Linked DNA regions of Homo sapiens: all the other regions are linked to region 2. Evidence: fine-mapped expression QTL. A gene starts in region 2. Each other region holds a variant in brackets. All regions are shown on one strand. Distances are between the middles of the regions.

What was found.
Region 1: its variant is fine-mapped to the expression of CFAP44 in prostate (GTEx, PIP above 0.99).
Region 3: its variant is fine-mapped to the expression of CFAP44 in left ventricle (GTEx, PIP 0.93).

The regions. Positions count from the first base shown.
Region 1 is chr3:114,346,376-114,349,142 of GRCh38, reverse strand. All of the region lies in intron 11 of ZBTB20 (zinc finger and BTB domain containing 20), which reads left to right. Among named protein-coding and RNA genes, the nearest start is that of ZBTB20-AS1, 4.1 kb to the left of the region's middle. The variant T/AT (reference allele first, on the strand shown) is at 1,609.
Region 2 is chr3:113,440,355-113,443,121 of GRCh38, reverse strand. It overlaps CFAP44 (cilia and flagella associated protein 44), which reads left to right and starts at 1,629. Exons shown (of 35, transcript NM_001164496.2): 1 at 1,629-1,669. SPICE1 (spindle and centriole associated protein 1) reads left to right here. Exons shown (of 18, transcript NM_144718.4): 18 at 1-404. It overlaps SPICE1-CFAP44 (SPICE1-CFAP44 readthrough (NMD candidate)), which reads left to right. Exons shown (of 52, transcript NR_183050.1): 20 at 1,468-1,669.
Region 3 is chr3:113,290,947-113,293,713 of GRCh38, reverse strand. It overlaps CFAP44 (cilia and flagella associated protein 44), which reads left to right. Exons shown (of 35, transcript NM_001164496.2): 35 at 1,966-2,767. The coding sequence ends at 2,157. It overlaps SPICE1-CFAP44 (SPICE1-CFAP44 readthrough (NMD candidate)), which reads left to right. Exons shown (of 52, transcript NR_183050.1): 52 at 1,966-2,767. Among named protein-coding and RNA genes, the nearest start is that of BOC, 81 kb to the right of the region's middle. The variant G/A (reference allele first, on the strand shown) is at 1,611.

The DNA of each region.
Region 1 (2,767 bases), 910 kb before region 2:
CTGCAGCCTCAACCTCCCGGACTGAAGCAATCCTCCCACTTCAGCCTCCCAAGTAGCTGGGTCTACAGGCACATGCCACCACGCTCATTTAACTTTTTTATTTTTTGTAGAGACAGGGTCTTACCATGTTGCCTAAGATGGTCTCAAACTCCTGAGCTCAAGCCATCTGCCTGCCTCAGCCTCCCAAAGTTATGAGATTACAGGCATGAGCCACTGTGCCTGGCCTCAGAATACCCTTATTAAATGACAAATAATTTACCAGGGAAAAGTTACATACTCGAATTCTGATACATGAAAACAAATTAGTTTCTCAAAACAACCTTGTTTCTCAGATCAGCTAGTAGGAATCCAAGAGAGAAGACATAAAACAGTGAAGTTTAGATTGGGGACTGAAGGGAAGGAAAGCAACAGAGATAGAGGCAAGGCATCAAACATGGAATTGTACAACTGAAACAGAACGTTGCTTAAGATGAACTTTGCCTTCTTTGCAGGGTAATGTAAGTCAGGACATTATGTAAATTAATGTATGTACTTTTATGAGAATCAGTTTTTAAAGATCACAGTATTCACACTTCCAAATAAACAGAGTGACTCACTACTGAATTTATGAAGAAACTTGGGTAGTGGTGAGTTGCTTTGTTTACTTGGGATAAATGTGAATGTACTAATAACCAGAGGTAAATCACAAGAAATTTTCCATATGGTATGGATATCACCATTATTAGGTGAATTAATCAAATAGTAATGTTTTTATTTTGTAGCATCTTATGATTTATAGAGTGCTGTCACATAGTTTATATCCTTTCCTCCCCTGGATAGCTGATTTATAAGCCATTAAATTAAGGAACATGGGGGAGGGGTGCAGGAAGGACCATCTGTGAAAGTATCTCCTTAACCAAAGTTGACTTTGCTGGTCTTGGATCCATAAACATATCTGCTCTCCCCTCTGTACATCTCTTCAAGTAGACCTATCAGATGTAAAATTCACACATTCTGTTAGATCACATAATAAAATAAGTCTTTAAATTTGCAACATAAAATTTTCAATGTACTACCAAAAAGTATCTTCGTGATGTATAAATACATTTCTCCAATGGATTCACTGAAGGATTCTGTGGTTAACCGAGATAACTAGATTTGGACATAAGAAAACCAGCAAAGGATTTGTGCACTCAGACACAGATGCAAAAGCTATAGGTAGAGTCATTTTATAAATCTGAGTTATGCTTAAAATGTGGACTTCAGTTTTCTAGTAAATTATGAACATCCTCAGTAAATTATGAATGTTATTGTAATGGTGTGTATAATATAGCCCCATCTGAAAATAATAATGTGCATATATCAATCAGGCACCTAATTTAAAAGAAGTAATGCTCTTCCCTTTCATTCCAGAATTATTTGGCAGTGGCAGTTTGGAAATCCTATCAGTCTTTCAAGACTATTGTCTAACTGAAGGATCCCCTAACCTAACAAAGTTTTAGAACAATTGGTCTAGATTTCAAAAAGCAAGACAGCCGGAACATGTGGAAATAATTCAAGACCTGGGTTCATTGTAGCTCGCATTTCCAAACAAAGTTCTTTTCAATTTCTAGGGAAAACATAAAAAAA[T/AT]GGAGCCTCAAAACTTTCCAAGAGCCCAGTGGAAGTGATAAAAATTCAAAGCAAAAAGTCCAAATGTTAGTATAAAAAGATTCTAGAAAGCACGGGGATACTTGTAAGAGTAGAGTTGGACTCTGTGTTCCCACCCATACTCTAACCAAAAAGAGTCCTAAAAAAAAAGAATAGCTTGACAAAGTTAAAAAGAAATTTGAGTTCTCTCCATTACAGCTGCTATGCAAACCAATAGACCTGCAGAGTAACTGTCTTAGCAATTCAGTAACTCCAAAGTTTAATATAGATGGTAGTTGCTTTCAACAACTGCAGATATAAATTGTGTGTGATGGTACACACCAATAGTCCCAGATACTCAGGAGGCTGAGGCGGGAAGATCACTTGAGCCCAGGAGTTTCGAGGCCAACCTGGGTACCTATCTCTTAAAAAAAAAAAAAAAAAAAAAAAAAAAAAAAAACCTGAAGAGAATAAATTATAAGATTCATATTCCAATTAAAATCTTGTACTGCTCTATGTTAATGATCCACATTCATGAAAGAAAGTGTTTGGGGCCAGGCATGGTGGCTCACGCCTGTAATCCCAGGACTTTGGGAGGTAAAGGTGGGTGGATCACTTGAGCCGAGGAGTTTGAGACCAGCCTGGACAACTTGGCAAGACCCCAGCTCTACAAAAACTATAAAAATTAACCAGGCATGGTGCTGCATGCCTATAGTTCCAGCTACTTGGGACGCTGAAATGGGAAGATCACTTGAGCCCAGAAGGCAGAGGTTACAGTGAGCGGAGATCACACCACTGCACTCCACCCCGGGCAACATAGCAGGACTCTGTATCAAAAAAAAAAAAAAAAAAAATCTGTTTGAGACAAAGAAGTAGTCCATCATATTGGCTTTGGAGCTAAGCTCTACCTTTAAGAATCAAGGAAGCTTTAGTTGTAAAGCATATTTCATAGTGATTATAACCCAAAAATTTAAAGTAGAGGCATAAATGAAAGACGATTGTACTGTAATTAGATGATTTGGATCCAGTTTTGTTTCCTCTAAATGCCTGTGTGTCCTTCAACAAATCAGTTAATTTCACAACTGTCTATTTCTTTGAGTTTAAAATAAAAATGATTTTTTCTGCCTTTTGATGTAAACGTATGATGCATGTGAGAGCTTTT
Region 2 (2,767 bases):
AATTTTTTTTGGTATATAAATAAATAAATACACTATTTCCCCCATGTTTCCAATTTTTAAGACATTGTATAGTGAATTTATTGTATCTTTCTCAGATTAACAATTGCACACAGTGCTTGAAATTTAGAGGTATTTCACCTGAAAAGATGTCTAGAGATTGAAAGAAAACATGCTGGGCATATGATTTGAAAATATAAATAACATGCTATTTAAAAATAAGTTTACCCTATGTTTTCTATCTTTTCTGGCACCTAGATATACCATTTAATAAGTAATAGCAAGGATAATCATTTTTTTAAGCCCTGGAAAATCTTGATTAAAGAGGACATTTCAGTATTGCAAATAAATGCATGGTATTTGTGTAACATTGTGGAAACTAATAAACACAAATTGTATTATAGCAATTTTTTCTTGCCAATTTTATTGACAAATAATTTATATACAATAAATGACATCCATTTAAAGAGAACAGTTTATTGGCTTTTGGCAGTTGTATATACCCATGAAATTACCACCACAATGAAGACACAGCATTTCTATCATTTCTAAGATTCCTTGTGTCTCTTTCCAGTGCATCTCACTAAGTCCTAGGCAACCACTTTGCCCAAGTCTCTAGACTATCTTGGATGTGGAATGACTTTGTGTATGTTTAACTTTTGAAGAAACCTCTCAAATAGTTTTCCAAAGTGGTTATGCCATTTTACATTCCCAACAGCAGTGTATGCGAGTTCCAGTTGCTCCATATCCTTCTGCATTTGGTGTTAGCAATCTTTGAAGTTTTACCCCTTCACGTGGATGTGGAGTTATGTGTATTGTGGTTTCTATTTCCCTTATGACTACTTTTAAGCATCTATCCATGTGCTTATTGGCCATACATATATCTGATTTGGTGAAGTATTCAAATCCTTTGCCCATTTAAGAAATTGGGTGGTTTTTTCTTATTGAATTATAAGAGTTCTTTATACATTCTGTATACAAAGTCCTTTGTCACATATTGGAATGACCATTTTAAAACAAGTATTTGGTAACTAATAACGTTAGGCTAGGTACTTTAAAAAACAATATGACCACAGTACTACAGAGAGGTTGAACAAACTGCTAAACCTAGAAATCTGTCAAGGGAGGCCTATACTTTTGTGCCCAGAGCGCTGCGACCAAGAAACCCACAACATAAAACCTGATTTACTCTTAAAAGCCAACAGAGATAATATAGTTTTAAAAATAACAAAAATCCCACGATGTATCTTTGTTGTTGATGTTGCCGGCAAGCTGCCTACTATCTCCCAGGACCCCTCTTAAAATCGAAGTTAAAACCTCAACATAGGAACGCCGCGATCAGGGCTCCGTTGGGCCATTTTGGAATATCAGGCAGGTATCTTCGACGGTATTCATGTCATTTAATTATCTACATGACGTCCTTTAGGGGATAATAAACTCGTCGGGCTTTTCTGTTTGGCTTTGAACCAGTGTCATGAGGCGGAGAAGGCCCGACCAAAGGGCGGATAGGTACCGGGTTCCCGGAGAGCTGGACGCCGGCCGCGCATGCGCCCCACGGCCCGCCCTGGTTCCGCCTCCCTGGAAGAGGGGTGGCGTTGTCTCGGTAACCGGAGTAAACGGAGGCCTCCGGCAGACGCTGTGAAGAGAGGAGCCGCGGCGGTCAGTACCTTCGGTGAGTTTGGACCTCAGCAGCCGGCAGTTTCCACACCCTCCCCCTTAAATCTGTGGCTCAGAGGGCAGTGAACCCCACTTGGGCTTCTCTCAGGCTGGACCAGTGTTATAGCCTTCGTCCTCCCTGCGGTAGCTCAGCAAACTTTTGAAGCCACGAGTATTCTCAGGCTCGGAGCTAGACACTGTGTGCACGGTTCCTGCCTGCAAGACCCTGTCAGTCTGACCGGGCGGAAGCCAGCCAGGCAGCAGGAGCACAGCTTAGACCCGGCCAAGTCAGAGCAGCAGCGAGTCAGCTGGGAAGGTGCTGGGGCTCCCCGCTCCAGTGAGACACCTGCCCTGCGCTCAGCTGGGTGCGACGCTTGGCACGCTGGGCCCTCTGCACTTCGGCTTCCTCATCTCCAGAAAGAAAGGTGATAATGTGACCTCATGGAGTTATTATTAAACAGGATAATACAAGTAAAGTGCTTAGCACATGCATGACACATAGTAGGTGCACATAAATATTTGTCGGATAATAGGTAAAGACAGTCGCATACATGTGTGCTGCTCAGTGTGTCCAGTCTATCATGAGTTGCTAAGGGTGCGTACTGATGAAAATCTTTGAGAGGAGAAGGCTAAGGAGGCTAGGGAGAGAGAGAGGGTGACTGTAGCTGGGCTGCAATAAGCTACAGACCCTCTGACAAGGGACCTTTACACCAGACCGAGGAATCTGAGCTCTTATTTGATAGCAGTGATGAGCCATTAGAGGTTTTAAGCAAGAGTGACACATTAAAAGCTGTGTTTTAGAAATACAAGCGATAGTGTAGAAAATGGGTTACAGAAGGGAAGACAAAGTATGACGGTACAGTAATGGTAGAGGTGAGACACAGTGAGGACTGGAACTACAGAGGGACAGCAGGGACAGTAGGAATGAAGGGAGGGGAGGAATTCAAAAGGCTTAATCACTGGACACCAAGTAACAGGACTTGGAAATCATCTACATGAATTGGGTGAGAGGAACGGATTCAGAGTAAATACGCTGCTTTCTCATCTGTAAAATAATGACAGTAATAATAATGGATAGCAAGACTTTGTCTCAAAAATAATAATAATAGGCTGT
Region 3 (2,767 bases), 150 kb after region 2:
ATATTGAGGGGTCTTTTTCCACTGAAGAACTTTTGAGTGAAGGATCAAGGCAGTGTTTGAGAAGGTTAATACCTAACCCAAATCTTCACAGACTGAGTAGTCAGTCAACATTTGTTGAGTCGATGTGCTTTGATCAGTCCAGATACATTGGAGAGGAAACAGCTTAGAGGCAGGAGATCAGCTGAATGGGAGAGGAAGTTACTAGTTATCTGTCTCTTTACACAGTATATGTTTACATGTATGGCCTCTTCACATAGGATATTTCATTTAATCCCCAAAACAGTACTTTCTAAAGCTCAGAGGAGCTGAGTAACTTGCTGAAGCTCTTAGAGCTAATGCATGGTGAAGTTAGTTTTGAAATTCAGGTCTGTCTGCCTCCAACGCTGACTCCATTGCTTCTTACAATGATGTAGGCAGGAATTGGGATATAGTTGGTGACAACAAAAATGTGTCAAATATCAAAAGCCATCTCAAAGTAAGAATAACCAAAATTTGATTGAGTCTGGTGAGGAGAAGGGGAAAGTGAGGTGACTTCAAAGTAACCCACTGGAATGACTGGGCATGAGTTGGTGTATGAGGCATGCTTTTAGCTACAAGCAACCAAAAGCCCTATTGAGAGTACCTTAAACAAATAGGAGTCATTTTTCTCACTTGACAAGAAGTCTAGAGGGAGATGACTACACGCTTTGGTTTTGTAGGACCATGATGCCAGAGCCCATATCTCTGTGATTTTCCTAAAGTTTCCTTCAAAGTCACATGACAGCTGCTTCAGCTCCCATGTTTCACATCCATGCACCAGCCTCTTCTGTCCCTTTTATTAAGGAGCAAAAGTTTCAGATTATATCCACTTAGCTCTCTCTAGCTGGAAGAGAAAATGGGTAAGGTTAAGTGTTTAGCTTTCATGGGCTCTAAAATAAAAGTGAGCAAGGGAGAAGAGGCAGAGGGTGTTGGGTAACCCTTACTATGAAGGTCTGCTATAGTACATAGGAGTAATGGAAAAAGTATGGACTTTTAGCATCAGGCAACCTGTTTCTAACTCTGCTTCCAGCTTGACTTGGCTAGTTAATGACTCCCTGAGTCTCAATGTCCTTATCTGTAAAACTGGAATGATACCACCCAGTTCAGAGTCATTTTGGGGATTAGATGAGAGAGCATATGCAAAGCACCTTGCACAAAGTGGGCACCACGCAAGTATTATGTCTTTCCTTTCACAGATGTATTCATGCATTCAAATGTTATTGAGCATCTACTTATGTAGAAAGCACTAGGGCAGGTATTGGCAGAGTGATGAGACTTAGTCATATGGAGCCCTGTTTCTAAAAGACAGGATCTCGCAGGAAAGATAGGTATCAAACAAGCACTTTGGTCATGCTATATTAAATTGCCATTGTTTTAGATTTAAAAAATGGTCAAATATCATAAATATTACATGGTTCAGAATGAACCATGTAATATTCTGTAAATTATAGTGATGTATATGTATAATGGATGTTTCGATAAAACAGAAAGCAGGAAATCCTAACCTAGTCCATGGGGCAAAGAAGGCCTCCCTGAAAGTGATGTGTGAAACATGAGTAGGAGTCAGCTGGACAGGGAAATAACTCCGATGA[G/A]GAAACAGAAGATTTCATTCTGGGAACCCAAATATGGGCTGTCCAGAAAAAGAAAGACATACTCTGTCTTTTATTATTCCAGTGATGAGCTCTTTAGGTAATGAATGACTGATAGCTAGCTTAAAGTGTACTCATCCAAAGAGGATTTGCACTTGAAGAGTTGTTTATTAGCCCAAAGGCACACATTTCTAATGGTGGGATTTTAGCAGAGGAATTGAAGGCTCCCGAGATTAAGGAACAGTGGCTGTTTAGGGTGACTGTCAGGCCAGCACTCATCACAGATACACAGTATAAGGGCATGGAGTTTTTCACATGCCAAATGATGCTTCAACAGGGAGCTGTTTTCTTTCAACAGGGCAATGCCTTCCAGGGCCCTCGGGAAGCAGATGTTGTGGCAAGAGAGGAGGTCACTGAATTGATCCAACTCCAGGCGGAAAGGATTTCGGCCTTAAAGGAGGAGATTGCTCTTTTGCGTAGGAAAGGCAGTCTTATCCTCCCACCCATTCAGTCTCCACGAGAGAAAGAGATACAGCCCGCAGACCTTTGAGTTTGCTATTTTCTCAAACCCATACAAGATTTCTGACATAACTCACTGGAAGTTCTGTCTCCTCATCACCTCCAACAATCTTATTACTTTAAACTGAACTCGCCTGAAAGTGTAAAACCAGATCCAGTCACGTTAAGTCACTTTAAGAATCTCTCTACAATTTGGTTATCTTAGAACTGACTGCAGCACCCAACCTCTGTTATGAAACTGAATCATTTTAGATGTTTCGAACCTACTAGATTGAATATGAAGTCTCGGAAGGCTGTGTTTCATGATTGCAGCAAATCACCTGTAATATATTTTGTTTTAGGAAAATTTGATTTGGGGGTATCCTGAATTTTTAGCCCTTGGCAAGAAAAACTATCATTCAGCAATTCATGAGAAAACTTTGTTTTCTTGATCCTTAGAAAATAAACTTAGATGTTATTAAGTGTTCTCTGAGAGGATGCAGGAGAAAAGGACATTTTGTCAGCTATATCTTAGAATAGAAATGCAAATTTCAGTTTTGGCATTGTTGACTTCATAAAGCAGTGTTTTGAGGGCTCAGGATTCAGGAAATACAAACAGACATGGCAGAGCAGTTTGCTTTGGGTTGGCAGAAAGCAGGAAA